Linked DNA regions of Homo sapiens: region 1 is linked to region 2. The links come from fine-mapping of genetic effects on gene expression. A gene starts in region 2. The other region holds a variant in brackets. All regions are shown on one strand. Distances are between the middles of the regions. Region 1 holds the start of HPN (hepsin). Region 2 holds the start of UBA2 (ubiquitin like modifier activating enzyme 2).

What was found.
Region 1: its variant is fine-mapped to the expression of UBA2 in whole blood (INTERVAL, PIP 0.98).

The regions. Positions count from the first base shown.
Region 1 is chr19:35,041,520-35,056,449 of GRCh38, forward strand. HPN (hepsin) reads left to right here and starts at 202. Exons shown (of 13, transcript NM_001384133.1): 1 at 202-353; 2 at 934-1,003; 3 at 7,771-7,872; 4 at 7,956-7,997. The coding sequence starts at 988. The variant C/G (reference allele first, on the strand shown) is at 4,181.
Region 2 is chr19:34,421,314-34,437,492 of GRCh38, forward strand. It overlaps UBA2 (ubiquitin like modifier activating enzyme 2), which reads left to right and starts at 7,068. Exons shown (of 17, transcript NM_005499.3): 1 at 7,068-7,257; 2 at 9,263-9,346; 3 at 10,548-10,618; 4 at 12,035-12,099; 5 at 13,555-13,655. The coding sequence starts at 7,120. PDCD2L (programmed cell death 2 like) reads left to right here. Exons shown (of 7, transcript NM_032346.2): 6 at 206-354; 7 at 4,677-4,855. The coding sequence ends at 4,807. LOC124904695 (a long non-coding RNA gene) reads right to left here and starts at 7,051. Exons shown (of 2, transcript XR_007067232.1): 1 at 6,809-7,051; 2 at 4,793-5,088. It also overlaps the pseudogene RN7SL154P. RefSeq lists silencers at 6,956-7,195, 7,226-7,335, 7,406-7,565.

The sequences.
Region 1 (14,930 bases), 620 kb after region 2:
CCTGTCCCTGTTCCCACATCCCCGCAGACAGGCACACCTGGGTCCCCCTGGAGGTCCAAGGCAAGCCCCGTAGCTGGGCCCGCCTGGTCCAGCCCCCACAAGCCCGGCCCCATCAGCCAGGTGGCCTCCAGTGCTGCCAATCGAATGGTCCGGCCCCTCCCCGCCCCTTCACCCGCCCCTCGCCCAGCCCCCTCCTCCTCAGGTGAGGCAGCCTGGCCTAGCAGGCCCCACGCCACCGCCTCTGCCTCCAGGCCGCCCGCTGCTGCGGGGCCACCATGCTCCTGCCCAGGCCTGGAGACTGACCCGACCCCGGCACTACCTCGAGGCTCCGCCCCCACCTGCTGGACCCCAGGGTAAGGACAAGGGCCCCCAGACTCACAGTTCCAGCCCTGAGGACAGGGGTTCCCTCATCCCCCCACCCAGCCTAATGCCCACCTCCTAATAGAGGGGTTCCTGGGGACCTGAAGAGGGGGCACTATGACGTCCCCCCAAGCACCTAGGTGTTCTGTCCTGCTCTTCCTTCAGACTCAGCCGTTGGACCCCAGTCCTTTCCTCCCCAGACCCAGGAGTTCCAGCCCTCAGGCCCCTCCTCCCTCATACTAGGGAGTCCTGGCCCCCAAATTCCTCCTTTCCCAAGACTTATGATTTCAGGTCCTCAGCTGTCTCCTCCCTCAAACCGGGATCCTCAGTCCCCTGCTCCACCAGGCTCAGGCATGGGGGTCCCCATCCCTGCAAATCCAGGCGTCCCCCCGCTGCTGGTCAGACACTGACCCCATCCTTGAACCCAGCCCAATCTGCGTCCGTGATCACGGCGTGCTCTGGCCAAGGCCCAGTCCCTACAGCCTGCCTGGATGGACGCCTGGGACTGGGGGCGCCAGGACTGGGCTGGGCTGGGCTCCCCCAGGCCCTGCCTCCCCGTCCATCTCCTCACAGGTCCCACCCTGGCCCAGGAGGTCAGCCAGGGAATCATTAACAAGAGGCAGTGACATGGCGCAGAAGGAGGGTGAGTCCCCTTCCCTGAGCCCCAGCTTTGGCTCTGCCTGGCGCCCCGCCCTCTGTGCTCTTTTCTCTACCCTCTACTCTTCGGAGCCCCCTCTCTCTGGGCACCCCTCCCAGATGCATCCCCACCCCTGTTAGTCCTCCTCCACCTGATTAACTATTAACCACATTTTCTGTGCAGCTGTGCCACCACCAGCCTCCCTTCTACCCTATGTGACCTTCCTGGCGTGCTGCCTCAGTTTCCCCTCATCCCCCAGTGATTTCTCAGCTAACTCTGGACTTGTCCTCTGCTGGGGCTGAGGCGGGGAAGCTGTAGCTGTCATGGTTAAGGACACAGATTTGGAGTGAAACACACAGGCTTGCATTTGAATTTGCTCTTGCCATCTTTTTTGCTGTGTGATCTGGTGCAAGTGACATTATTCTTAGGGCTTTGGTCTCCCTCTGGGTCAAGCATGGATACCAGTCCTCCCTCTGTGAGGTTGCTGAGTGCATGACACACACCAGGCACTGGTCTGGGGCTCTGCATATAAGACGCATGCCATCAAGCAGAGCTGTCATGACAGAGGTTGGCAAACTCGGAGTCCCAGAGACCCAGGACCCCCACCGATCCCAGACATTCCTCCACCTCCTGGCTCTGTGGGCAAAAGAGCAGAGGGAGGACTTTGGACTGGGCCTGGATGGATGGAGAGGGGAGAGACGGCAGAGAAACCACCATAAGGATGAGAGAGAGAGACTGCGTCATGGAGTTGCTGGCCCTTGGGAGTCTCTGGGCAGCCCCCAGCTAGCCTGGCTTCCTTTCTACCTCTCACACATGGGACCCAGCTGGAGGGGCGCATGGAGGGGCGTCCTGTTCTTTCTGCCTTCCCCTAGCTGGGGCTGACTCCCTCTCTTCTTCCGCAACCAGGATAGCCGGGCTCAGTCCTGGGCAGTAGCACTTTCTAGCTGTGTGGCCCTGGGCAGACGGCGTGTTCTCCCTGGGCCTCCATTCTCTCATCTGTGAAATGGAGAGGGTGACAGTGCATGTCCAACAGCGTGGGGCGAGGCCTGAAATGCCAGGATGGGCAGGAAGCACTGAGCGTGTTGGCTGAAATGATTAGTTCAGATCTCTGGCCTCCTCGGGTCTCGGCACAGCTGGCAATTCAGACCCCAAACCAATCAGCTGCAGTCCAGAGGGAACCCAGGCTCCCAGTTACTCAGGAGAAGGCATTGCACCCTAGCCGAGCAGGTGGATGACAGAATCCAGCTCCTTGGGGACAATCTCTTTCCTGGAGCTGCCGGAAGGACAGCCCCAGGGCTTGGGCCCATGGGTGAATGAGCCAGGGAAGAAAAGCAGAAAATGCCCGAATGGACAGAGATGGCCTGGGTACAAAGAGAAACAGACACAAAGTGGGCTCTGGTGCCTCCCTGGCAGCTCCGGGCTGGTCTTGGAGGGGAGTCCTGCTGTCAGGGCTAGGGGTGTGGAGGTCGAACCTGGACACAGATGCTGAAGGGTTCCGATTCTGCACTTACTTGCCGGGTGACCCGGGTTTGGTGGCTGCCGGACTTTGGGCCTCCTTTTCTCATCTGTAAACTGGGGGTGATGGCAATGGCGCCTTCCTCGTGAACAGCTGCAAGGATTTAAGTAAGGATGCTGTGCAGGACTGGACGGGGTTAGGGTAGGGCGGTGCGTCCGTGTGTGATTCAGAGAGCCGTTGTGGCTGCAGCGGCTGCTGTTGTTGGTGTCACTGTTATTGCTGCTGGCTTCTTGGTGCTGCCTGGAAACTTGGAATTGGAGGAGGTGATACTGGAGTTGCAATTCCAAGGATGCCAGGCAGAGGGAAGAGCAAGGCTCTTGCTCTTCTCTGGGAAGCTGGGAGGTGACACAGCACTGGTGTGCACGTAGCCAATTGTGGTATTTCTGGAGGTGAAGCTGGAAGTTGAGCTGGGTGGGAGAAGAGGTGTGCAAGCTGGACCAGGCAGGGGTGGGACTGTTTTGGGGAAGAGCTGGCCAATTCCTTGCAGTACCAGGTCTCTCCACAAGGTGGCGCCAGTGGTTAGTCCCTGCTTCTCTTGTCTAACTTGTATTTTACAAGTTCTACTGTTTGGGTTGCTTTTTGGAAGCTCTCTCTGGTACCTGATAGTGACCCACATGGTTGTCTGAGAATTGGGGGAAACATACTCCCAAATCTCTGAAAGCCATGCTTATACCCTAGTGGGGCTGGAAATGCCAGGCTGAGGGACTTAAGCTGTCTGGGGGGTACTAGGGAGTCACAGAGGGTTCTATAGGTAAAGAGGGGACAGGTTGGATTTGGTGTCTCAGTAGGTTCCCCAAGCCTCCGTGTGGAGGGTGCGCTAGAAGGGAGACTGAGCCCAGCGGTTGGATGGGGCCGGAGCAAGGTGCAGATGGAGAGAAAGAAGGAAACGGGGGAAGGAGAGTCACTCAGGAGGATTGGCAGGCTGTCGGGGGAGGGGAATGTTATGCAGATGGGGATGGTCCTAGGAGTGAGGGCCTCTGAGACAGGACCGGGAGGAAGAATATACTTGGGGAGACATTGGGGAGACATTCTGGGACCTGGTAGGGGCAAAGGGACTAGGAGGTCCCAGGGAAAGGTATTTAAAAGGTATTTAAAGGACTGCAGGAGCCCTGACCTGGGACCTGGAAGAGGGTCTAGGGCTGGGGACAGAGGGGAAACTGAGTCCACAGAGGTGGGTGAGACAGACTTAGGGGCAAGGAGGAGCAGGGGGAGGCTGCGGCCAGCCCTACAAACTCTGGATTTTACGGAGTAGGTAGAGGGTGGGTGAAGACAGCAGCCTCAGAGGCGGGAAGGAAAATCAGGTGCGCCTGGTGTCCCAGAAGTCCAAAGAGGAGAGCATTTATACAGGAAGCTGCAGTCATGTAAGATGAGGCCCGAGACACGGAGCCACCAGTTGAGTGGATTTTCAGAGCCAGAGAGCCAAAGGTGTTACGCGTGGGGGTCTTTGCAGCCAAATGGTGGAGGCGGAAGAACTGACCTATGAGAAGACCCAAGGCATCCAGAGGGGCCTGGAGAAGCAGGGGCAGAGAGTCTCAGGGAGATGTAGGGGTGGGGGAGGTCTGGCTTACCAAGGGAAATAGCCCTGCTGCTGGGATCAAAGAATTGATGTTGACGTGCCGCCTGTCCCAGTAGAGACACGCAGGGAGGATGAGGATGCGTCCCACACC[C/G]TGGGCCAGATGAGGATGCTGCCTGTCCCAGTAGAGACACGCAGGGAGGATGAGGATGCGTCCCACACCGTGGGCCAGATGAGGATGCTGCCTGTCCCAGTAGAGACATGCAGGGAGGATGCCTCTCATACTGGGGGAACCCCAGGATGCAGATGCTTCCTGTCCCACTGGAGGCGCTGAAGTCCTCTGAACCACACAGCATGGAAGGAGGTTCTTCCTCTCACCCTAGGAGACACATACATAGTGGCATTGCTTCCTGTCCCACCAGATGTGCCAAGGCCTCTAGGCTGCATTCTGCATGGCCTAGAGCCCTGGCAGGCACAGCTGAAAACAAAGCAAGCAAGACCAGCCCAGTGGCTGTCGGGAGCCAAGACCTCCTGCTGGAACCTGGAGAGTGGTCCTGGGCAGAGTTGGGGGGCAGGCCTGAGAACCCCTCGCAGGACAGGCAGGGGTCAGCCGGCAGTAGTTGGGCTGGTCTGGCCCACTGGGGCCTCTTTTGGGGAAGAGAGTGTTTCCTCATGCCTTGATGGGAGCCACTGAGCTTTCAATTTTTTTTTTTTTTTAATACAGAGTCTCGCTCTGTTGCCCAGGCTAGAGTACAGTGGCGCAATCTTGATTCACTGCAACCTCCACCTCCCGGGTTCAAGCGATTCTCCTGCCTCAGCTTCCCGAGTAGCTGGGACTATAGGCGCCCGCCACCACACCCAGCTAATTTTTGTATTTTTAGTAGAGGCGGGGTTTCACCATGTTGGCCAGGCTGGTCTTGAGCTCCTGACCTCAAGTGATCCACCTGCCTCAGCCTCCCAAAGGACCGGGATTACAGGCATGAGCCACCATGCCCAGCCTGAGCTCTCAAATTCTTAAGACACCCAGATAATGGCCACACCAGGAAGGTCCTAGACCACTCCCTGCTCTGTTCCAGGTGCTGGCCTGGTGCCGGGTTCACCAGCCACATCACCATGGGTGCAGATGGGCGAGCTGGGAGCTCCTGCCACCTTGGGGTGCTTTGCGGCTGCCAAGGGCAGTTGAACCCAAGCCAGGCCCAGCTGAAGGCTTTCAGCAGCCTTTACTCTTTGGCCTTCTTATAATCCCTAGTGAAGGGGTTGGCTTTTATTTATTTATGTATTTATTTATTTATTTATTTTTTGAGACAGAGTCTCGCTCTGTCGCCCAAGCTGAAGTGCAGTGGCGCGATCTCGGCTCACTGCAAGCTCTGCCTCCCGGGTTCAAGCCATTCTCCTGCCTCAGCCTCCCGAGTAGCTGGGATTACAGGTGCCTGCCACTGCGCCCGGCTAATTTTTTGTATTCTTAGTAGAGACGGGGTTTCACCGTGTTAGCCAGGATGGTCTCGATCTCCTGACCTCGTGATCTGCCCACCTCGGCCTCCCAAAGTGCTGGGATTACAGGCGTGAGCCACCGAGCCCGGCTAGGAGTTGGCTTTTAATCTCCAGGACCTCTTTGCCCTGGGAATAAAATCCCTTTTCCTGTGCCACCAGGCCTCCCCAGCTGGCCCCAGCCTTGGTTCCCACTACCTTCCCCAAGCTCTGGCCATCTGGCCATCTCGATGGCCTCTCCAGCCTCTGACATAAGAGAGCCTGCTTATTCTTGCCTCAAGGCCTTTGCCTGTGCTGTTCCCTCTGCCCACAGTGCCCTTCCTTGTGGTCTGTGTGTGGCTGGCACCTCACCTTTCAGAGCTTAGCTCAGAAGTCTCCTCTAGGGGAGGCCCTGTGATCCCTGATCCCCTGCAGAAGCCCACCTGCTGCCCCAGCCTGCACGGTTTTCTTCACAGCCTCTGCCACAATCTGGAAATTATTGGGTTCATTTACTTGTTTCCTTGTTAATGTCTCCCACTCCCCACCTACACGCATGAGAACGTGAACCCCTGAGAGTCGTAACCTTATCTGTCTTCTTTGGGTTATGTTCCCGGAACCTAGAAAGGTGCCAGGCACACAGCGGATGTTCAGTAGGATGGTAAACAAATAAAGCTTCTTTAGGCTGATGAAAAAACTGAGGGTCAGGCGCGGTGGCTCACGCCTGCAATTCCAACACTTTGTTTGGGAGGCTGAGACAAGCAGATAACTTGAGTCTGGGAGTTCACGACCAGCCTGGTCAACATGGCAAACCCCGTCAATACAAAAAATACAAAAATTAGCCATGTGTGGTGGTGTGCGCCTATAATCCCAGCTACTCGGGAGGCTCAGAATTACCTGAGCCTGAGCGCTTGAGACTGCAGTGTGCCATGATCGCGCCGCTGCACTCCAGCCTGGGCAGCACAGTGAAACCCTGTCTCAAAAAAAAAAAAAAGAAAAAGAAAGAGAGAGAGAGAGAAAAAGAAAGAAAGAAAGAAAGAAAGAAAGAAAGAAAGAAAGAAAGAAAGAAAGAAAAGGAAGGAAGGAAGGAAAAGAAAAAAACTGAGGCTGAGGCTCAGAGAGGGGAGGGGAGTTGCTCAGGCCCACACATCTCTGATGATTTATAAAGCATTTATAGAGAACTTGCTATGTGCCAGGCACTTCCGCACAGTGAGAGCCAGGATGGCTTCGTGGCTGTACACAGGGGACCTGGCATCAAACCTGCCCAGGGTTCTGGACGCTGCTCTGCCTCTTCCAGGCTGTCACTGTGGGCACGTGACCCCACTTCTCTGAGCTATCTCAAAAACAGGAATCATAGTTGTGGGATTGAAATAAGGACTAAATGAGCTGATGTATTTAGAACGGTGCTTAGCACCTGGAGGCATCAATACAATTTGAGCTATTCTTCTTCTTCTTGAAAATAACTTTAAATTATTATTTTTAGAAGTAGGTGCTCAGTGGATGCCCATTTAATAGATAAGAAAGTTGAGGCTCAAAGATATGATGGCACCTGCCTTAGGTTCCAGCTAGGAAGGGGTAGGGTCAATATTTTTAAATGAGGCTGGCCAGACGCAGTGGCTCACTCCTGTAATCTCAGCATTTTGGGAGGCTGAGGAAGGAAGATCGCTTCAGCCCAGGAGTTTGAGACCAGCCTGGGCAACATAGCAAGACCACGTCGCTAAAAAAATTAATACATAAAATAAAATGAGGCTGGCAGATTTTCAAGTGGAGGGGCAAATTTGATCTTGCAACTGGGTACCATGAGAGAGGTCTGATTTAGGGGGTATCTAGGGGCAAAGCATCTAGAACAGCAGAAACGACTGAGGCAGCGAGGAAATGCCAGCGGCAGGGAAGAGAGCTACCAAGAGGGCAAAGGTTGGGGGTCACAGTCCCAAGAAGAGATGGCCCAAAGCAAAGACAGAAATACAAAAGCACAGTGTCACTGGGGAGGAGACATTCCCTAAGTGCCAGGAAAGTGCAGGGCGGAGGTGGAGACCGTGGCAGGTGGCCCGGCCATGCCCCCCTCCCAGCTGGAACCCTGGGGGAGCTGGGCACCTGGTTGTTCACACGGCAGGGGAGGAACAGCCCTGTCAACTGCTGGCCCCGGGAAACTGGGCCTGGGGAGGACATGCTTGGGCATAATAAGTTAGCCCTGGGGGCAGGGCAGAGCTGGCCTCGGGCCCAGACCCTGCCGCAATGAGGACAGGCCTGGCTGTGGCCCCAGCATGGTGTCTGTTGCAGGTGGCCGGACTGTGCCATGCTGCTCCAGACCCAAGGTGGCAGCTCTCACTGCGGGGACCCTGCTACTTCTGACAGCCATCGGGGCGGCATCCTGGGCCATTGGTGAGAGCGGTTCCTGTGCCTCTGACCTCCCCTGGCCCCTGCAGCCTCCAGCCTGCCTGCCCTCACCCCTCCCTTCTCTGCAGTGGCTGTTCTCCTCAGGAGTGACCAGGAGCCGCTGTACCCAGGTGAGTGGAGCAGGCTGGGACCCTCTGGGGGAGCCCTGGAGGACACGTGTATCTGGCGGGAGCTCAACAAGCGTATTTGTTGAATAAATGCACAAATGCATGCAGAAATGCTAATCATAATAGTGCATTTGTATTGAGTGCCTGCTATGTACCAGGCACTATTCTAAGCACCCCACATGTCTAACCCAGACTTTTTCAGACACCAGTGTATTACTCATGAGTGCCTCATAAAATTAAATTAGTGAGTTGGAAAACCATGTTTTTTTTTTAAGTATGAAATAGATTCGATTACAGACTATCACAGTACATCTCTCAGTAAGTAAAGGTTATGCTAATTTTTGTTTGTTTTTTTTTTTTTTTGCATCCATATACATGTAATCCCACTGCATCCCCACACTCTGAGGGTGGGACTGTTATTCTCCCTGTTTTACAGATGGGGAAACTGAGGCTTTGAGCAATGCAGCAGTTTGCCCCAGACTACAGAGCTATGGGCTACATCAGGATGTAAAAATGTGTTTCTTACTGCGTGGCATGGTGAAAACATGTTGGGGAGGCATGATATAAATTCAGTGGACCCTTCTAACTCTCCTAGGAGGTAGTTTTTTTGTTTGTTTGTTTTAAAAAAGAAAAAAGTCTTGCTCTGTCACCCAGGCTAGAGTGCAATGGTGCAGTCTCAGCTCACCGCAACCTCTGCCTCCCAGGTTCAAGCGATTCTCCTGCTTCAGCCTCCCAAGTACCTGGGAATACAGGCGTGTGCCACCATGCCCAGTTAATTTTTTGTATTTTTAGTAGAGATGAGATTTCACCATGTTGGCCAGGACGGTCTCTATCTCCTGACCTTGTGATCCACCCGCCTCGGCCTCCCAAAGTGCTGGGATTACAGGCATGAGCCACTGCGCCTGTCCCTGGTAATTAGCTCCATTTTACAGATGTGCAAAATGAGGACCAGAGAGGACATGCAGCTGGGGAACGAGGGGCCAGGAACAGCTCTTAGACTTATCCACTGTAAGTGTGTCTGCAGGCATGTGGAATGAATGGCCACACAAATAAATAGATAAAGAAACTAACTGTGGGATGAATGAATGAATCTTCCCAAATGCCAACTTCAAGCTGCCATTCCCTGATGCAGGACAGCAGGAAAAAAGGGGAAGTTGGGTGGTGGGATGTATTTTTCATGTCTGTGAGCCTCATCTAATTCCATAAAGGATTCAGTTCACACTAAAATCAGAAATGAAAATCCAGACAAGAAAAGCCAACATCAACATTAATCATCATTACCAGCACTTAGCATTTGTATGCACCAGCCAAGGCCTTGGGACCTTATGATATCAACTCATTAAGTCTTCCCAACAACCTGTTGTTTTTCTTTTCTTTTTTTTTTCTTTCTTTCTTTCTTTCTTTTTTTTTTTTTTTTTTTTGAGATGGGGTCTTGCTCTGTCGCCCAGGCTGGAGTGCAGTGACACGATCTTAGCTCATTGTAACCTACATCTCCTGGGCTCAAGCAATCCTCCCATCTCAGCCTTCTGAGTAGCTGGGACTATAGGCTAATGCCACCATGCCTACACAAAATTATTTTGTCAATAACAAATTATTGTTATTTTTATCTTTTTGAGCCAGAGTCTCGCTGTGTCGCCCAGGCAGGAGTGCTGTGGCGCGATCTTGGCTCACTGCAATCTCCATCTCCCAGGTTCAAGTGATTCTCCTGCCTCAGCCTCCTGAGTAGCTAGGACTACAGGCACGTGCCACCACACCCAGCTAATTTTTGTATTTTTAGTAGAGGCGGGGTTTCACCATGTTGGCCAGGATGGTCTCAAACTCCTGACCTCAGGTGATCCACCCGTCTCGGCCTCCCAAAGTGCTGGGACTACAGGCATGAGCCACCACACCCAACCTCATTTTTTAAATTTTTAGTAGAGATGGGATCTTGCTACATTGCCCAGTCTGATCTTGAACTCCTGAGCTCAAAGCAGTCCTCTCAGATCAGCCTCCCAAAGTGCAGGGATTACAGGTGTGCACCACCACAACCCATTTTCCTATGGGGATGCTGAGGCACAGAAAGGCTGAGTGACTTGCCCCAGGTCATGGAGCTAGTCAGTGTCAGGGCTGGGATTTGAACCCAGGCAGCCTGCGTAGTAACTGTATATAGTGTCTACACTTGATTGCTTGTTAAAAAAAAAAAAAAAGAACAGCTGAATTCATTGCCATAGTAAAGACTGACATATGCCAGGCCCTGGCGGCAGCCTTTACCCAGCAGGCCTATGAAGTTAGGGCTGTTACATCCCAACATTTTGCATTTGGGGGAAATTGAGTCCCAGTGAAGCAAACTGACTTGCCCGAGGCTGACCACACATCAGAGACAGAGCGAAGGGATCACGCCCCTGTCAAAAGCCCCTCCGTGACAACACGTGGCATTGAGATAAAATCCCAACCCATCACAGGCTCCAAGCCTCCTAGTGTGGAGGCCCCTCTCCACCCCCACCTCACACTGGCTTCTAGCACCCTCAGGGCCCAGTCCCTTGCTCAAATGACCTGCTCACACAGAAGTCTCTACTCACCCACTTCTTTCTAGCTCACACCCAGAGGCAGATTTCAGTTCTGCACAGTTCCTTCTGAGCTGTGGGGCCTCCCACCAGTCCCTACTCTCTCCAAGACTCAATTTCCTCATCTGTGAGATGGGGGTAAGAAGAATCAGTGGGAATAAGAGGAGATAAAAATCTGTGTAGTACTTGGGCGGGGTGCGGTGGCTCACCCCTGTAATCCCAGCACTTTGGGAGGCCGAGGCAGGCAGATCACCTGAGGTCAGGAGTTCGAGACCAGCCTGGCCAACGTGGTGAAACCTCATCTGTACTAAAAACACAAAAATTGGCCAGGCGTGGTGGCGGGCGCCTGTAATCCCAGCTACTCAGGAGGCTGAGGCAGGAGAACTGTTTGAACCTGGGAGGCGCGGGTTGCAGGTTGCAGTGAACTGAGATCACGCCACTGCACTCCAGCCTGGGTGACAGAGCAAGAGTCTGTCTCAAAAAAAAAAAAAAAAAAAAAGGCTGTGCAGTACTTGCCTCTTAGCCAGCACAGTGGACATTGGCTTTTGTATCTCACTCCTGAAATTCTTTCTTGAAATTTCTTGAGCAAGATCTTCCTGGACTTCCAGACTCTATGGCCTCTCACCCTATGGTGTGTCCCTGCCACCCCGGTAAAACCCTCCTCACTCATTGTGAATTATTTACTCCTGGCGAACTCCAGGAAGGCAGGGACCTTTTGTGGTCAGACGGTGCCTGGCACATAGTAGGTTCTCAGGAAATCCTTGAGTTATGAGTGCACCCAAAGCCAAAACACTGGGATGAACTAGAGAGTCATGGGCCTCCAGCTGGAAAGGAGCGAGGCCACCACTCACACCCGGCTCTGGCCAGCACCACGCCGCCACCCTGCAGAGGTATTTGGGTTTTTCAACAACTCAGGGAAATGATGAAACAAACAAACAAACAAAAACAACCCCAAGCTTGTATCCCCACCTCGCTTTTTTTTTCCTGGGATTTTCACACTTCTAAATATATCCAACAACTTGGCAGGCACACCAGGTGACCCAGAACATCCTTTTTGTGTTGCCTGAAATGATAGGAACAAGAATAAAGAATTTAAAAGTGAGAAACAGCAGCAGAGAGTGTGACTTTAAAAATAGCCAGAGGGGACATTTGATGTTCTCTCCCCACTCCCATCTCCCCCAACACACATCTATAAAGTGATTTTCCCCCCTAAAACCTCACACTTTCTGGAAATCACATTTCCAGAGCAGTTAACAGTCATTTTAAAATAAGAATCCACCCCTCTTCCTGCCCCAGCTGGTGTTTCAAACTCCAAGCCTTGGCTTTCATGGGGTGATGAGGACCCCCCAGCTAGAGGTGCCAGGCATTCCCTGCCCCAACCCCAGAGCAGGAGACCGTAATTAAGGCAGGCCAGGCCGGTGCGGTGGCTCACGCCTGTAATCCCAGCACTTTGGGAGGCCCAAATGGGCAGATCACTTGAGGTCAGGAGACCAGCCTGGCCAACATGGCAAAACCCCATCTCTACTAAAAATACAAAAATTAGCCGGGCGTGGTGGCTGGTGCCTGTAATCCCAGCTATTTGGGAGGCTGAGGCATGAGAATCGCTTGAACTCAGGAGGCAGAGGTTGCAGTGAGCTGAGATCGTGCCACTGCACTCTAGCCTGGGAGACAGAGCAAGACTCCATCTCAAAACAAACTTAAAATAGAATAAAATAAAATAAGAATCCGCCCCCCTCCCCGCCCCAGTTGGTGTTTCAAACCCTGAGACTTGGCCTTGGAATTCATGGGGTGATGAGGACCCCACAGCCAGAGGTGCCAGGCGTTCCCTGCCCCAACCCCAGAGCAGGAGGCCATCATTAAGGCAGGCCAGCCAGGTGGCTTTTCAGTGCCAGCCGTAGCTGAATATATTAGGCAGGGAGACAGGCAAGGGTTTGTATGAGACCCACAGAAGGAACAGGGAATATGCTGGTCTGGGTTCAAGTCCCGGTTTTGCTGGTTAGCCGTGTGCCTCTGGGCAAGTTTATTCCTCTGAGGCTTAGTTTTCCCATCTGTAAGATGGGCATAGAAGTGGTCACTACTGGCTGGGCACAGTGGCTCACGCCTGTAATCCCAGCACTTGGGGAGGCCAAGGCAGGTGGATCACCTGAGGCCAGAAGTTTGAGACCAGCCTGGCCAACATGGTGAAACGCTGTTTCTACTAAGAACACAAAAGTTAGCCAGGTGTAGTAGCATGTGCCTGTAATCCCAGCTACTCGGGAGGCTGAGGCAGGAGGATCGCTTGAACCTGGGAGGCAGAGGTTGCAGTGAGCCGAGATCATGCCACTGCACTCCAGCCTGAGCAACAGAGCAAGATTATGTCTCAAAAAAAAAAAAAAAAACCGAAGTGGTCACTATCTCCGAGGATGGTTGTGGGATTCAGAGAGCCACTTGGATAGGATGCATAGCATGGGGCCAGCCCACTGACACCCCCCAGTAAACGTAGCCAGTGCTATTATTACTGTGCTGTTGTTTAACCCTCCAGAGGGGAAGTCTCTTGAGAGGCTGTCCAGGGCAATGTTAAAAGCTTGGGGTTTGAAGTCACTCAGACCTGATTTCGAATCCTCTCTCCCTGCTTCTCGTGCATTTGGTGACGTTGGGGAAGCCACCCCACCTCTCTGAGCCTCAGCTTCCCCGTCTGGAATTTGGGGATGATCTTCGTGGCTCCTGGGGTGTGCGACGAGGCCTTGGTTGATGGTGGGGCAGAGGTAGCCTAGCCCCAGGAACACAGTAGGTCCTCAGCTGGGGAGAGTTCTACTTGGAAGTCTTGCTTCTCCTTGTCCCAACCTGCGGGGCTGTGGGAAGACCCCTCAGCTGGTGTGTGGCCTCACCAGGTTCCTTCTAAGAGGATGCAAAAGCAAGTTTTCATTTGACTCGGTTTCCCAGAATGTGCTCTCAGAGCCCAGGCCAGGCAGGAGGCTCTTGAGAAAAGGACAAAAAGACATGGTGGCTCACACCTGCCATCCCAGCACTTTGGGAGGCCAAGGTGGGAGGATTGCTTGAGGCCAGGAGTTTGAGATCAGCCTGGACAATATAGCAATACCCTGTCTCTACAGAAAAAAATAAATTTAAAAGGCGTTTTTAGCTCAGGCTTTGCTGGGTTCTAACCTGGCTATTGTCACTCAGCTTTATCCTAACATAAAAAAATAAACAAATTAGCAGGGTGTGGTGGTATGCCCCTGTGGTCCTAGCTACTTGGGAGGTTGAGGCGGGAGGATCGTTTGAGCCCAGGAGGTTGAGGCTGCAATGAGCTATGATCGTGCCACTGCACTCCAGCCTGGGTGGTGGAGCGAGACCCTGTCTCAAAAAAGAAAAAAAAAAGTGGCAGGGAGAAGGAAAGGAAAGGACAAAGAGGTTCACAGCTGATCTCTCCCTGAACCTGCTCCTTCCGTCCCCATCTCTGTCAGCCCCATCTTTTCAGGCTCAGGCCAAACCCCTCGGTTACCCTCCCAGTTCCTCCAGTCACCCATGAATCAGATCTTGCAGGAAACCCTGTCAGCTGCACCTACAGAACCTCTCCAAAATCTGAACTCTTCTCCCCGTCCACTGCCCCCACCCTGCTCCAGCCCCCTTCCCCTCCCCTCTGGACATCCCAGAGCCTCCTCCCTGGCCTCCCTGCTCCCATCCCTGCCCCCCAATCATATCCCACAAAGGGGATATGACTCACTCACTTAACCGGCAATTCTGGAGGGTCTTAAAACCTGGCTGCCTCAAGAGGCTTTAAAATGTTATCAGATGGGGGCCAGGTACAGTGGCTCATGCTGGTTCCCCACTTGCAGCCAGAGGGAGCTGGTGACCACCTGAGTCAGGTCAGGGCCCTCCCCTGGCTGCACCTCACACCAGGTGCCAGCAAAGCCCTGATGTTGCTCTATTTCTAGCTCCCACCTGATCTGCCCCTCCCTGGCTCACTCTGCTCTGGCCTCCCACTGTTCCTGGAGCACTCCCCCCAGTCCCCCACACCAGCCTTGGGATCTTTGCATCTGCAAGTCCCTCTGTCTCCGTGCTGATCTCACACACCTCCTGACACTTTCTCACCTCCTGCAGGTCTTTGTTCTTGCACCACCTTCCCAGGGACGCTCTCCTTGCAGCGACTGAAAAGTGCAACCTCACCCCACCCTCCATGCCGGCACTCCCCTCCCTCGGTGGCATTTTATTTTTCTCTGTGGCCCCTTCCTATCTTGTGACACATAATATATCCTACTTATTTGTCCCTTTCTTGATTTGTCTCACCTACTGAGCTTTGAGTTCCACAGGGGTCGGGGTTTTTGTCTGATTTGTTCATTGCAGTGGTGATTTGTTCACTGCCTAAAATAGAGCCTGGCAGGTACAAAGTGTTTGGTAAATAGAAATCAATACC
Region 2 (16,179 bases):
CATTGACTTTAGTGCCTTTGAGACTTTGAATCGAACACTGACAAGATTTCCAGATATCTTGCTATGCTTTACAGCCATGGTGCTAGGTTTTTGGGCCTCTGGGAGATTTCTGCAAGAAACAAAGAAAGGTTGCAAAGCATGGCCTTAGATGCTAGAATGCGACTTGTGTGGCTCTGATTCGGGGTTCTTTGTTTCCTTGTCCTAGGTATTCCTGGAGTGGAGAGCCACTCTTTTTGACCTGCCCTACATCAGAAGTCACCGAGCTCCCAGCCTGCAGCCAGTGTGGAGGCCAAAGGATATTTGAGTTTCAGCTTATGCCAGCACTGGTCAGCATGCTCAAGAGTGCTAATTTAGGTGAGAAGCCCTTTATTAATTTGAGTTTGTGGATTTCTGGCATTATTTTTAAATAAATGAAAAACCTTTTGTTTACTTATAAAATATCATAAGCAAATTACAGAAAATTTGGGAATTAAAAAATTATTTTAAGAAATTTAGGCCAGGTGTGGTGGCTCATGCCTGTAATCCCAGCACTTTGGGAGGCCAAGGCGGGTGGATCACAAGGTCAGGAGATCGAGGCCATCCTGGCCAATGTGGTGAAACCCTGTCTCTACTATAATATAAAAAATTAGCTGGGCGTGGTGGCACGTGCCTGTAGTCCCAGCTCCTTGGGAGGTTGAGGCAGGGAATCGCTTGAACCCAGGAGGTAGAGGTTGCAGTGAGCCAAGATCGCACCACTCTACTCCAGCCTGGCGACAGAGTGAGGAGACTCTGTCTCAAAAAAAAAAAAAGAAATTTATAATCCAGCCAGTCTTTTTTTTTTTTTTTTAATATTTATTGATTGATTTATTTATTGAGATGGAGTCTCTCTCTGTCGCCCAGGCTGGAGTGCAGTGGCACGTTCTTGGCTCACTGCAACCTCCAGCTCCCGGGGTCTAGCAATTCCCCTCCCTCAGCCTCCCTAGTAGCTGGGATTACAGGTGCCCGCCACCACGCCCGGCTAGTTTTTGTATTTTTAGTAGTGATAGGGTTTCACTGTGTTGGCCAGGATGGAATTTTTGTATTTTTTGTAGAGACAAGGTTGCGTCATGTTGCCCAGGCTGGTCTCGAACTCCTAGACTCAAGCGATCCTCCCGCCTTGGCCTCCCAAAGTGATTACAAGCATGAACCATGCCTGGCCAGAAATTAAAACTATTATCAATGTTAATAACCATTATTCCAACAATCATTTTTGACATAAAGACAAATAGCAAGTCAGATGAATGTATGGATGGCTAGACGAAAATAATTTTCCTAAAATAGGAAAATTCACTAATATGGTAATTAAAAGTCTTAGAACAAATTTTTGTACAAATTAACAGAAGGAATGTTAAGTATAAGTGAAGCAGTTACTGGATTTTTTTTTTTTTCCTTCTTTTTTCTTGAGACGGAGTCTTGCTCTGTCGCCCAGGCTGGAGTGCAGTGGCATAATCTCAGCTCACTGCAAGCTCCGCCTCCCGGGTTCATGCCATTCTCCTGCCTCAGCCTCCCAAGGAGCTGGGACTACAGGCGCCCGCAACCAAGCCCAGCTAATTTTTTTTTGTATTTTTAGTAGAGACGGGGTTTCACTGTGTTAGCCAGGATGGTGTTGATCTCCTGACCTTGTGATCCGCCCACCTCAGCCTCCCAAAGTGCTGGGATTACAGGCGTGAGCTGCCACGCCTGGCCTGGACTTTTGGTAATAGGTTCTTTACCTAAGAGGCCCAAGTTTCTGAAAGGTGCTTCTGCTATTAACAGAAAATAACATTCTTTCTGTGTTTCAGTTTTAGATAGTATGCATCTGGCTCCTTACCATAGTAGATAAGGAAATTTATACCCTATTCCTACCTTGAAATATTTCAGTATCTTTTTTGTTTTTTGAGACGGAGTTTCACCCAGGTTGGAGTGCAATGGTGCTATCTCGGCTCACTGCAACCTCTGCCTCCCAGGTTCAAGTGATTCTCCTGCCTCAGCCTCCTGAGTAGCTGGGATTACAGGTGCCCACCACCACACCCAGCTAATTTTTTATATTTTTGGTAGAAACAGGTTTCACTGTTGTTGGCCAGGCTGGTCTCAAACTCCTGACCTCAAGCTCCCGACCTGCCTCGGCATCCCAAAGTGCTTGGATTATAGGCATGAGCCACCGTGCCTGGACCCAGTATCTTTTTTTTTTTTTTTTTTTTTGAGATGGAGCCTCACTCTGTCGCCCAGCCTGGAGTACAGTGGCACTATCTCGGCTCATTGCAACCTCTGCCTCCCAGGTTCAAGCGATTCTCCTGCCTCAGCCTCTTGAGTAGCTGGGATTACAGGCGCCCACCACCACGCCCTGCTAATGTTGTATTTTTAATAGAGACGGGGTTTCGCCATGTTGGCTGGTCTTGAACTCCTGACCTCAAGTGATCCGTCCACCTCGACCTCCCAAAGTGCTGGGATTTACAGGCATGAGCCACCGCGCCTGGCCAGTATCATAATTATCACAGCTATTTGGATAGCCTTAGTTCTATGTGTAAATGGATTCAGTGTTTATCACCACTCTTAGAGTGAGCTTTTTTATTCCTGTTTTATTTTGATTCTTTTTGCAGTAGCTGGATTTTCTCAAGTAATAGCTTTAAGGAGGGCTCAGAGGTATCTTGCTTCAGATTGTGCATGGTAATGTGGCTTCATATTTGAGGGGCAACCCATGTATAAAATTTTTAAATCCCACTTTCTCTTTTCAGAACCTTGTATAGACCCCTGTGTTGTCTTCTGACAGTGAAAGCCCTGCCAGCCCTTTGCCCTGGTGCCTCCTGTCATTTCTTGGTGGTTCAGTCTCACTGGGAAATATATTTTTCTGGAAGGGCTTATGGGCATTCTAGTCTCTGAGATTTTTCACTCATATAGAAATGTCTTTTGCATGGAATGTAGCTTTGTAGAGGTATGAGGGTGGTCTGATTTTTTCCCCCTTTGTGACTAACATTTTTGCCACAATACTGTTAGCAGCGGTGAATCTGTAGGGGTCTGTAGCAACCTCAGTTCTTGCCTCCTCCGAAGAAAGAATTTGACCGAGGCACATAAGACAGAGGAGAGACCGAAGCAAATTTTAGAGCAGGAGTGAAAACTTACTAAAAAGTTTTAGAGCAAGAACGAAAGGAAGTAAATATAGTTGGAAGAGGGCCAAGCAGGCAACCTGAGAGATTCAAGTGTCCATTTGACCTTTGACTTGGGGTTTTATACTTCCTGGGTCTTGGGTTACTTCTCTTGTTTCTTCCCTTGGGGTGGGCTGTCCACATGCATAGTGGCCCTCCAGCACTTGGGAGAGGCCGCATGCGCAGTGTGTTTACTGGAGTTGTAGACTTGCTCACTTGAGGCGCTTTTCCCTTACCAGTCAGATGCTCCTAGAGGAATGTCATATACCAGTTAAACTCTGCCATTTTTTCATTTTTTTTTTTTTTTTTGAGACAGAGTCTCACTCTGTTGCCCAGGCTGGAGTGCAGTGGCACAATCTCTTCTCACTGCAACCTGTGCCTCCCAGGTTCAAGCAATTCTCCTGCCTCAGCCTCCCAAGTAGCTGGGATTACAGGTGCCTACCACCACGCCCAGCTAATTTTTTGTATTGTTAGTAGAGACGGGGTTTCACCATGTTGGCCAGGCTGGTCTTGAACTCCTGACCTCAGGTGATCCATATACCACAGCCTCCCAATGTGCTGGGATTACAAGCATGAGCCAATGTGCTGTGCCCAGCCAATGCATACATTTTTAAACAATGTATTTCTCCTTTGCTGCTGCAAATCATTGCCTACGTCATCCTCTTGACTCCTGCTTTTCTGTTCTAATATCAGGAGTTCTTATTGCTTATGTTTTCTTGGTATCTTTTTTTAATGGCTTTATTCATTGATAATTTTCTGTAAACTCTTAGGGTTTATTTTATATTTTTTGCCTGAATCCTTATCCTTTCTCGGCAGTAGTGTGTCCTATGATATATATTTCTCTCTTCTTTTTTTTTTTTTTTTTAAGACAGGGTCTCGCTCTATCACCCGGGCCAGAGTACGGTGGTGCAATCATAGCTTATTGCAGCCTTTATCTCCTGGGCTCAAGTGATCCTTCTGCCTTAGTCTCCTCTGAGTAGCTGGGACTACAGGTGTGCACCGTTACACCCAGTGAATTTTTTTTTTTTTAGTAAAGTCTCACTGTGTTGCCCAGGCTATATGAGATATATATATATTTTGTTTGTTTGTTTGTTTGTTTTGTTTTTTGTAGAGACAGGTGTCTCACTATGTTGCCTAGGCTGGGCTCAAGCTGTCCTTCCCCGTCGGCCTCCCAAAGTGCAGGGATCACAGTTGTGAGCCACCGCACCTAGCCAAAAGCTATGTATATCACATGAACCATGTAGATTAATATAGATTTTCAACATCAGATAGCTAGACAGTTATAATGAACACTTGCTGAAATTTTTGTTTATTTTTAAAGTATATTTTCCTGCCACTTTAAATTAATTTTGCTTTTTTGTTATCAATATTCACTTATTATAGGATAGACTGTGATTCTGTTATAGCTGAAAGCAGTAAGCACTGTTTTTGCTTTACCTAATTACTTTTTCAGCTTATAAGGTAAAATCATTCCTTTTAGTAACATCAGTCTCATAACTCTTTTTGCTGGAAGCCTGAATATGTGGTATTTTTCAGGTCTTTCTGTGGAATTTGGAACAATTCTAGTTTACACATGTGAGAAGAGTTGCTGGCCCCCAAATCATCAGACTCCCATGGAAGAATTTTGTATTATACAAGAAGACCCAGATGAATTATTGTTTAAGTAGAGCATTTCCTTTTATTAATATAAATTAAAACAAATGTTTACATCCAAATATGTTTGTATGTACCTTATTTTAACTCACAAGTTATTAACCTCTGTTTTTCTGAGTTGCCTTTTTGCCTTTGGGTGCTGGTGCCGGGGCCGGGGCCGGGCCAGGACCTCCTGACTGTGGGTTGGTCTGCCCTTCCAGGGTCCAGGGCCAGCTGTCACAGTGGCAGCTAGGAAGGTAGCTCCTCTCTAGTCCAGAGGGCTGGTGTTGTCTGCACAGCCGTTCTGGTGGGCATTCTAGGGGGGAGGAGAGCAGCGAAAGAGCCAAGAGCAGTGGTCAGCCTCTTGTGTACACCTCTGACACGTGCACTCCAGTGCTTCCTATGCTGTTTCTGGCACCTGATCAAGCCACTGAACCTGCTCTAGCTGCTGGAGGTTTTTGCTCTGTGACCCTGGCTGTTTAGACCTGCCCATGTTCATCAGCCCAGGTCCCCGCCCTCACCCACTCCCATCTTCTGCTCCTGCAGTATCCCAGGAAGGGGTCTTTACTCCGTTCTGGAGACTGTCCCTTTATCCAGCTGCCTTCCAGTCTTCCCCTTTCTTTATTTTTAACATGATCAACCCCTTCCCTTCAGCCCCATAACAGCAGTATAAAAACACTCCCAGCCATGTTCAGACATGCTCTGCCTACGTAGATGAGGATAATGAGGCCTAGGTGATCATGGGGTGGGCTTGTTTCTTGCATTTAACATTATATTTGGAGCATTTTCCCATTAATATTTTTCCCACAACATAATTTATAATTGCTCTATTTTTTAAATATACATCAAAAGCTTTATACAATTTTTAGCCACTTGTATTTTCCAATTTTTATTCCCATGATGGCCATCCCTGTAACTAAATTTATATATATTTTAAATCAATGATAACTGCTACAGGACAGTTTCCTAGAATTGGAATGAATGAGTCAAAAGTTGTGCACAATTTTAGGGTTTTTTTTTCTTTTTTTTCGAGACAGGGTCTTGCTCTGTCTCTCAGGCTGGAGTGCAGTGGTAAGGGCATAGCTCACTGCAGCCTCGACCTCTCAGGCTTAAGTGATCCTCCTGCCTCAGCCTCCTGAGTAGCTGGGACTACAGGTGCAAGCCACCACGCCCTCTAGAGAAGCTTTGCTTTGGAATCTTTACCTGGAGTGTGTTGGAGTGCTTGTTTCCCAATCCCTTGATAAGTGTTACTTATTTTTTCTTTCTACCAGTTTAGTAGGTGAAAAACTTTTTTTTTTTTTTGAGACAGAGTCTCGCTGTATTGCTCAGGCTGGAGTGCAGTGGTGCAACCTCCGCCTCCTGGGTTCAAGCAATTCTCCTGCCTCAGCCTCCTGAGTAGCTGGGGCTACAGGCTTGTGCCACCACCCCCAGCTGTTTCGGTGTTTTTTTTTGTTTGTTTGTTTGTTTGTTTTTTTGAGACGGAGTCTGTTGCCCAGGCTGGAGTGCAGTGGCGCGATCTCGGCTCACTGCAACCTCTGCCTCCTGGGTTCAAACGATTCTCCTGCCTCAGCCTCCCGAGTAGCTGGGATTACAGGCGCACGCCACCACGCCCGGCTAATTTTTGTATTTTTAGTAGAGATGGGGGTTTCACCATGTTAGTCAGGCTGGTTTCAGAACTCCTGACCTCGTGATCCACCCGCCTCGGCCTCCCAAAGTGCTGGGATTACAGGCGTAAGCCACCGCGCCCGGCAGGTGAAAATCTTACCATTTTGCATGGTTTACATTTTTTTCTTTTTTGAGACGGAGTCTTGCTCTGTTACCCAGCCTGGAGTGAAGTGGTGCGATCTTGGTTCACTGCAACCTCCACCTCCAGGGTTCAAGCGATTCTTTTATGGTTTACATTTTAATACGCTTATTGATCATATTGTCCAATTTTTTGTGAGTTTCCTGTTCACATCCTTTGCCTATATTTTTTTGGGGGTGACACTTGTTAATTTGTAAGAGCTCTTTACGTATAGGGACATCAGTTTTCTAACCTGTAAGGAAGTCTTGGCTGGGAGTTGAAACCCCAGGCTAGAAGGCGACCCTTAGACTTTTTAGGTCTGATGGCGGGCCTATGCTGGTGTGGGAATAACACCGCCGGTCTCAGCTGGAGGTCGCCAGCCCTTTGCAAGAGCCTGCCGGTCCCCGCGGGCTGCAGCACACCCCGGCGCGATGTGCCCTGCCTGTGTCTGCCGGAGGCTGTAGTGCGCAGGAGCGGAAACCAGGCCGCCCTTCCCCCACCCGCTTCCGGCCGCGGCTCGGTTCTCCCGCCTCCGCCTCCGCCGCGGCTCGTGGTTGTCCCGCCATGGCACTGTCGCGGGGGCTGCCCCGGGAGCTGGCTGAGGCGGTGGCCGGGGGCCGGGTGCTGGTGGTGGGGGCGGGCGGCATCGGCTGCGAGCTCCTCAAGAATCTCGTGCTCACCGGTTTCTCCCACATCGACCTGGTGAGGGCCGGGCGCGCGCGCGTGAATGGCGGGCTGTGGTGCGGGGGCTGGGATTCGGGGGTTCCGGGGCTCCAGGGGCTCTGAGGCTCAGGGCCCGGAGCCCGGGACCGGAGTTGCGGAGCGGGGGCAGGCTGAGAGGCTCGGGTTGTGCCCCCCCCGCGGGAGGAGACTGTTCTTTGGGCACGGGGCGGGCCTCCGCTCGCTGGGCCGGCTCCGGACGCCGAGGAGGCCGCGGGCCCCCGCCTCCCCGGCAGCGCCAATGTGTGGCGCTTCGTGGGCGTGAAGCCGCCTCTTATCCTCCCTTCAAAACAAATTCCCGGCTGTTAGGAGATGCGGGAGAGGATTGAGTCCCTCGCGGATGTTGTGACTTTAATTTTGAGGTCCCTGTCGTAACTCCGAAGTAACGACGCGGGGCGGAGGATGGCAATGATAGCGACCAACGCGTCCCGAGCGCTGGTCACGAGCGGGTTTACACACGGAACGCGCACCATCTTCATACCACCCGAGGAGTGCAAACGCTATTTCCACCCTGCTTTATTTTTAACAGATGAGGAAAGGGAGACGCAATGGGGTTGAGTAACTTACCCTGGGTCACGGAGCGAGTGGCAGGGCTCCCGCAGGCTGCGTGACTGTCATTGCTCTCACAGTAGACGGTACACTCGCTTGTTTCATTAAAGACGTTAGGACTGTGCCTTTTGCATTGGTGTACGTTGACAAGCCAGTGCTATTTTGAATCGTTATTTCTACTAATGCAAACTTTTTAGAGATTGGAGATGTTACTGGCCCTTCGGTGTGAGTTTAAAGTGTCTTAAGGGCTAGTGGAAACATGGAATGAACAAAAAAGTACGGGTGGCCGACTGAGTCATTGTTTCTTTCCTTTATGTATTATATATTTAAGCAAAAATTAGATAAAACTTAAAACATGATACTTTTTTAACCATGTGTAAAAGTTTCCTTTCACAGTTCTCAGGTTAATAGTAAATGAAATTGTGTATGGATGAAGGCTTGAATTAAGGGAGGCAGCAAAAATTCAATAAACGTTTGCCATGTATCATTTAAGAAAAAGAACAGAACCTGGGCAACATAGAGAAACCCCGTCTCTACAAAAAAAGAAAATTAGCGGGGCGTGGTGGTGTGCGCCTGTGGTCCCAGCTACCCGGGAGGCTGTGTCAGGAGGATCGCTTGAGCCTGGGAGGTCGAGGCTGCAGTGAGCTGTGTTTGCACCACTGCACTCCAGCCTGGGCAACAGAGGGAGACCCTGTCTCAAAAAACAAAGAAAAAGAACAGGGCATAGTTAAATTTAATATTTTGTACTTGAAAGAGTAATTCGATTGAAAGAGAAATACTTTAGTATTTTTTGAGACAGGGTCTGGCCCTGTCACCCTGGCTAGAGTGCAGTGGCCCGATCTCGGCTCACTGCAACCTCCGCCTCCCAGGCTCCAGTGATCCTCCACCTCAGCCTCCCGAGTAGCTGTGACTACAGGCATGTGCCACCTAATTTTATTTTTTCTATTTCTTGTAGCCACCAGGGTCTCACTATTTTGCTTAGGCTGGTCTTGAAGGTCTGGGCTCAAGCGATTCTCTCACTTTGTCCTCCCAAAGTGTTGGGATTACAGGTATGAGCCACCACTCCCGGTGTAGAGAAATATGTTAATATATTTTCAGTTAGTGTTTACCTCGACAGCACATATAGTTTTAATGAATTCACATATTTTTATGGCATCCAGGGAGTTTCCTGAAATATTTTCCAGGATGATTAAACAAACAAAATATACCATTCTTTCAAAGTATTTTTGAGAAGTTTATCTCTGACATTAAATCTAGATTCTTACATGCATTAAATTATTCTTTATCAGTTTAACAATTTTGGTATGGCGATTCGAAAAACGCTTTCTCCACTAATGTAGCAGATATCAAAAGTTCTGGATTACAGGTGCTGAGAGTAGTGATACAGCTCAAACATACGTAAACGTTTGTCATTTATCTGGGGTTTATGCATTTGTAGATTGATCTGGATACTATTGATGTAAGCAACCTCAACAGACAGTTTTTGTTTCAAAAGAAACATGTTGGAAGATCAAAGGCACAGGTAACTATATTTCTCATACCATTTCTATAACTTGATGGAGCTTCTATTTGTGATACCAGATTAATCCTGCCTGTCATATAGGAGGGAAAAAATGGGTGAAGCTCTCATTTCAGCTGAGAGATTGTGAAGGATAAAGATATATCAAGTAAAGGACTAAAGATTAAGCCCTCCTTTTTTGTTCTAAAAAGGAAATAATCCCGTGATGGTGTAACTTTCATGGCCTCTTTATATTTAAGTTTCTGATGCTTTGCTTAGGATGCACCTTGTGTTCCTACACCCCCTAGAGGTTGACTACTGCTATGTTTGGGGGCTAGAGGAGCGTTATGCTGCTGTCCTAGTTGAAACAAGACAGTTCCCCCGATCTTTGTTTAGTTTTTTTAGTGTTCCTTGGTGATTCAGAGTCTTAAAACATCTTTTCCCTTTGCCTGTCTCCCAACCTGTTTGGCAAACCCCCACTTGTTTCTCTTTTTCTTTCATATTTTGGCTTCCTCCTCCAGGAGTACTTTCCTAAACCTTTTAGACTAAGTCAGGTTGGTTTTTCTCTCATAACAACCTTTACTTTACTTTTCCTATCATTTTCTTTTCTTTTTTTTTTTTTTTTTTTTTTTTAGAGATAGGGTCTCACTCTGTCGCCCCAGGCTGGAGTGGAGTGATGCGGTCATGGCTTACTGCAGCCTAGAACTCCTGGCCTCAAGGGATCCTCCTACACTGGCCTCCCAAGTGCTGGGATTACAGGCATGAGCCACCATGCCTGGCCTTTTCCTGTCATTCTCATGGCATTTATCAGAGTCTGTAGTTGAACTTAATCTGGATTGTTATTTGATTAATGTCTCTCTTGCTTGACATGTACGTTGTATAGTTCCTGGTACATGCAAGATGCTCAGTAAATACTTGTTAAGTGAATGAATGAATGACACTTGGTTACTTCATGTTGTATTTTTGCTGAAGCTTGCCATTCATGTAGAAGTGTGTTTGGTGGTACGTGGGTCAGGGGGGGCTCTCCGGTTATTTTATAAGTATAAAAGTATAATTTTATAAGTGTAGCTTAACCCTAATGCAATTTTCTCACATTTTTGGACTTCTTTGGTGTTTAATATAAATAAGGTACTATGTAAGTAGATAACAGCATTGTGGCTTCCAGAAGCAGATTTCAGATAGGAACAGAAATATTGTAGTAATTCAGTGTTGTTTATTTTTCCAGGTTGCCAAGGAAAGTGTACTGCAGTTTTACCCGAAAGCTAATATCGTTGCCTACCATGACAGCATCATGAAGTATGCTATAGTGATTACATTGCAAAGTTGTATAAGGGTTTTGTAAGCCAAATATATAAGCTCAAAGTCATTCAGCTTTTTTAAAAAAAATGATTTTTCTAGAATTATTAAACAGTGGTGGTTTCTGCTTACAGAGTGGCATTCTTTTTACCAGTTCATAAATACATGGTTTGAATGATTTAGAATGGTGAGATAGTTTAATACTTTTAATAAATAAGTTACTTGGAAATTTATAAAGACCTTATATGCTTGCCTTAAGTAAGAAGATATTTTAAACTATGAAATATCCTTATTTATGATGATTCAGACTTTTCTAAAGTGTTTGCCTTTTTTTGTTTAAAAGTTTCCCTCCCAAAATAATCTGTAGTATGACTCTGACTTCTGTAATATAACACTTGGAATTGTGGTAGGGCAGTAGTATTGACAGTACATAAATATATTTATCTCAGTAAAGATAGAGTAAATATATAATTTTGGAGGAGTTGGAGCAAAGGAACTGTGGGCCGAAATTGTCCTTTATCTATGGTGGTTTAGCTTGCAAGTAAATAGTGTTAAAAATAGTCCTTGTTTGAGGTACTGGAATTGAGGTACTTAACACTTTCTCAGGGCATTTGTATCTCCGGATTGTGTTTTTTTTGTGTGTGAGATAGGGTTTTGCGCTTATTGCCCAGGCTGGAGTACAGTGGCATGATCTTGGCTCACTGCAACCTCCGCCTCCTGGGTTCAAGCGATTCTCCTGTCTCAGCCTCCTGAGTAGTTGGGATTACAGGCGCACGCCACCACACTCAGCTAATTTTTGTATTTTAGTAGGCGGGGTTTCATCATGTTGGCCAGGCTGGTCTCAAACTCCCGACCTCAGGTGATCCACCCGCCTTGGCCTCCCAAAGTGCAGGGATTACAGGCGTGAGCCACTGCACCCGGCCTGTATCTCCGGCTTGTTTTTTAGTTTTTTACTCTGTGAACCTGCCTGTAGCCCTATAACCTCCTTACCCTGTGTTGCTTTCCCAGTGCTGCTAAAAACAGAGACCCTAGGGGCCTGAACCCTGCCTGATCCTGATCATGTGAGGTGAAGTCAGAGGCCAGGCAGATCCTGGGAATGTGTTCTTTATGCGTTCCCAGGCACTTGCTGCCCAAAGAAGGCCTAGTGGGACTAGTGAAGTCATGCCATCTTTCTGCCAGTTTGAGATCTTTCTCTTGTGCCCTAGCTGGCCAAAAAGGATAGGAATTTGAAGGAAATAATTTCTTTAAAATCTGCTTATGTTTGGAAAGAGTCAAACCTTACTATCTATATGACATATAATCCTGATATCAGTTTTGTTTACAGTTACTATGTTTTTTTCAGAACTGTTTATTATACTGCAAAGATCATGTGGAAGGCTAGTTATTTTGGTGACCTTTTTTTATTTTGTTTTGTAGCCCTGACTATAATGTGGAATTTTTCCGACAGTTTATACTGGTTATGAATGCTTTAGATAACAGAGGTGAGGTTATTTTAATACTTTTAATTTCTCAGTATTTCCTCTCTCCCATATCAAATTTGTTTACAAATTTAATATTTATTAGACTATTGTGATTTAGAACTTAAAAGACTTAAGAGAAATGATCGAGTTTAAAGCATGCCCATTGATTGCAGTTTTATATAGAAATGACTTATTCCAGGCGGGAATTTAGCTATCATATTCTCTGCATTTCTACCAAAAGGTATAAATAGAAGTGAAGTGAAAAGCTCTCAAAAAGTGTGACTGTGGCTCAGCACAGTGGCTCACGCCTGTAATCCCAGCACTTTGAGAGACCAAGGCAGGAGGATCACTTGAGGTCAGGAGTTCGAGACCAACCTAGTCAACATGGTGAAACCGTCTCTACCAAAAAACACAAAAATTAGCCGGTGTGGTGGCATGTGCCTGTAGTCCCAGCTTCTCCGGAGGCTGAGGTGGGAGAATCGCTTGAAGCCAGGAGGCAGAGGTTGCAGTGAGCCTAGATCACACCACTACACTCCAGCCTTGGTGACAGAGTGCGACCCTGTCTCAAAAAAAGAAAAAGTGTGACTGGAGGGTGGGGTGGGGGATGCTTGAGTGATATTCTTTGTCTGTAATTACTTCCACATGTAAAAGTATATCTACTAAGTGAGTTTACAACAAGTTGGGCCAGAAATATCTAAATAAAAAACACAAGGAAAAGTCAAAATTACGTTTATTTTTTAAGGCTTGGGGGGTCTCACTGTTGCCCAGACTAGAGTGCACTGGTGTGATCATAACTCACTGAAGCCTTCAAATGGGCTCAGGTGATACTCTTACCTCAACCTCTGCAGTAGCTACTCTGCAGACAGGTACCACCATACCCGGCTAATTTTTTTATGTTTATTTTTGTAGGGATGAAGTCTTGCTTTGTTGCCCAGGCTGGCCTCGAACTCCTGGCTTCAAGCAGTCCTCCCACCTCAGCCTCCCAGAATGCTGAGATTATGGGCATGAGCCAGTGCTCCTGGCGTGAAATTACTCTCTTAACCTGACTCATCTTTTTTCCCTAGCCTTAAACTACTTTAATAGTTCCAAGTTGATATTCCACATTCTGCCTTCATTTCTATCATGTATTATCTGCTAGTTATATTAGAATAGTGGTGAGTTTAGGAACACCTTGAAACAGTGTTTTGTGTAAGGTACAGCAATAGAAGAGAAATATGGCACGTTGGATTTTTAAGATTATGTGTTTCTGTGGGTACTTCTCCTGGAGTAAATTTGTGATATAAATTCTATTTGATATTTTGCTAAGTGAATGTCTCTTAAATGTCTGTAATTAACAGTTGTATTATTCTGGCCATAGCTATAAGAAAATTGTACAAAAAATGAAGCCAGTAAGATAGTTTTGAGTCTGTGTCATCCTAATTAAAGATAACTAATTTTTTTTTTCCCAAAAACTCATACTGTTTGTTTTACTTCCAGCTGCCCGAAACCATGTTAATAGAATGTGCCTGGCAGCTGATGTTCCTCTTATTGAAAGTGGAACAGCTGGGTATCTTGGACAAGTAACTACTATCAAAAAGGTAAAGAAAAGTTTTATTTTTTTAACTTCCCAAATATTTATTTGAGACCTTGGAGCAGGAGGAAATAAACTTTGTATTTATATAAAATGAACAGGTGAACATCCAAAATGTAAGGACTTTTATGCTTATATAAAACTTAAAATGCGGGGCCAGGTGCAGTGGCTCATACCTGTAATCCCAGCACTTCGGGAGGCCGAGGTGGGCGGATCACCTGAGGTCAGGAGTTTGAGACCAGCCTGGCAAGCATGGTGAAACCCCATCTCTACTAAAAATACAAAAATTAGCTGGACATGGTGGCCGGCGCCTGTAATCCCAGCTACTTGGGAGGCTGAGCCAGGCGAATCACTTGAACCTGAGAGGCAGAGGTTGCAGTAAGCTGAGATTGCACCACTGCCCTCCAGCCTGGGCTACAGATCAAGCCTCTGTCTCAAAAAACAAACTTAAAATGCTATAAACGTGCTCAAAAGACTATGGGCAAGGAAATCTTTCAGCTCTGCCATTTTGTTTCATTTGACTTTTGTATTAAAATCCTTAGAGTGGTAAGCATGATATACCAGGCATCAAAAATTTCTTTGTGTCGGCTGCGTGCAGTGGCTCATGCCTGTAATCCCAGCACTTTGGGAGGCTGAGGTAGGCAGATGACTTGAGGTCAGGAGTTCGAGACCAGCCTCTCCAATGTAGTGAAACCACGTCTCTACAAAAAATACAAAAATTAGCTGGGTGTGGAGGCGTGTACCTGTAATCCCAGCTAGTTGGGAGACTGAAGCATGAGAATTGCTTGAACCTCGGAGGTGGAGGTTACAGTGAGCCAAGATGGCACCACACTCCAGCCTGGGCAACAGAGTGAGACTCCATCTCAAAAAAAAAAAGCCAGGCGTGATGGCTCATGCCTGTAATCCCAGCACTTTTTGGGAACCCGAAGCGAGCGGATCACCTGAGGTCAGGATTTTGAGACCAGCCTGTCCAACATGGTGAAACCCTGTCTCTACTAAAAATACAAAAATCAGCGGGCGTGGTGGTGTGCACCTGTAATCCCAGCTACTTGGGAGGCTGAGGCAGGAGAATCCCTTGAACCGGGGAAGCGGAGGTTGCGGTGAGCTGAGATCACGCCATTGCACTCCAGCCTGGGCAACGAGCGAAACTCTGTCTCAAAAAAAAAAAAACCAAAAAATTCTGTTGTCTAAGAGTCTGGGCTTATAATGTGGAAGGGAACTTTGAAAACTTTTTAGGGGTGTATTTGTGAAGTACTTCAAACATTTAAATACAACTAGAGAATAATAGAACAAAATACCTGTGTGCTCATACCTCAGTTTTGTTTTGGTTTATTTATTTATTTGTTTATTTTTTTGAGACAGAATTTCGCTCTTGTTGCCCAGGCTGCAGTGCAGTGGCGCGATCTCAGCTCGCCGCAACCTCCGTCTCCCTGGTTCAAGCGATTCTCCTGCCTCAGTCTCCCGAGTAGCTGGGATTACAGGCGTGCGCCACCACGCCTGGCTAATTTTGTATTTTTAGTAGAGACGGGGTTTCTCTATGTTGGTCAGGCTGGTCTTCAACTCCTGACCTCAGGTGATCCACCTGCCTCGGCCTCCCAAAGTGCTGGGATTATAGGTGTGAGCCGCCATGCCTGGCACATATCTCAGTTTTTAAAACCTCAACACGGCTTCATTTGCTATTCAGATATTTTTTCTTTCAGTTCTTTTAAGAAGTTAAATATTGTAGTTACATTTGAAGAGTCGTTTTCCATGTTTTGAAACTATAGAAAGAGAATTATAATGTACTTAACATTTGCTGGTTGCGTCTAATTTTTTTTGGCAGCTTATTCATGTTAGAAATTGTGTCTTTGTTTCTTTTAACTGTTAAATGTTATTCTTGGAACCTTATTGAATACCATTCTACAAAAGACTGTTGTGTATGTCAGTGCGTATTAAGTTGTTGAATAAGTGGAGGCCTTCAGTATCTGTTGACAGATCAAGACGGAAGTTCTCTGTCTGCATTGCAGTATGAGTCTCATGACTGCTTGCCATGTGGCTACCCTCAAGAAAGCATATTGGAAGGCTGAGGGCATCAGAAATGGTGTTTCAGAGAAAACTCTAAATCTGCTGCAATTTATATTAAAACAGTATTTGAGAGTTTTGATTCTTGAACAATTAGCCTGGCTAATTTTTGCATTTTTGGTAGAGATGAGGTTTTGCCATGTTAGCCAGGCTGGTCTCAAACTCCTGACCTCAGGTGATCCGCCTGCCTTGGCCTCCCAAAGTGCTGGGATTACAGGTATGAGCCACCACGCCCGGCCAGACATTGCTTTTTATATCCTTGTTACTGTGATTCTGACACACCACTGTGTATTAAGACTGAAGGTGGCTGGGCATGGTGGCTTACGCCTGTAATCCCAGCACTTTGGGAGGCCAAGGCGGGCGGATCACCTGAGGTAAGGAGTTCGAGACCAGCCTGGCCAACATGGTGAAACCCCATCTCTACTAAAAATACAAAATTTAGCTGGGTGTGGTGGCACGCACCTGTAATC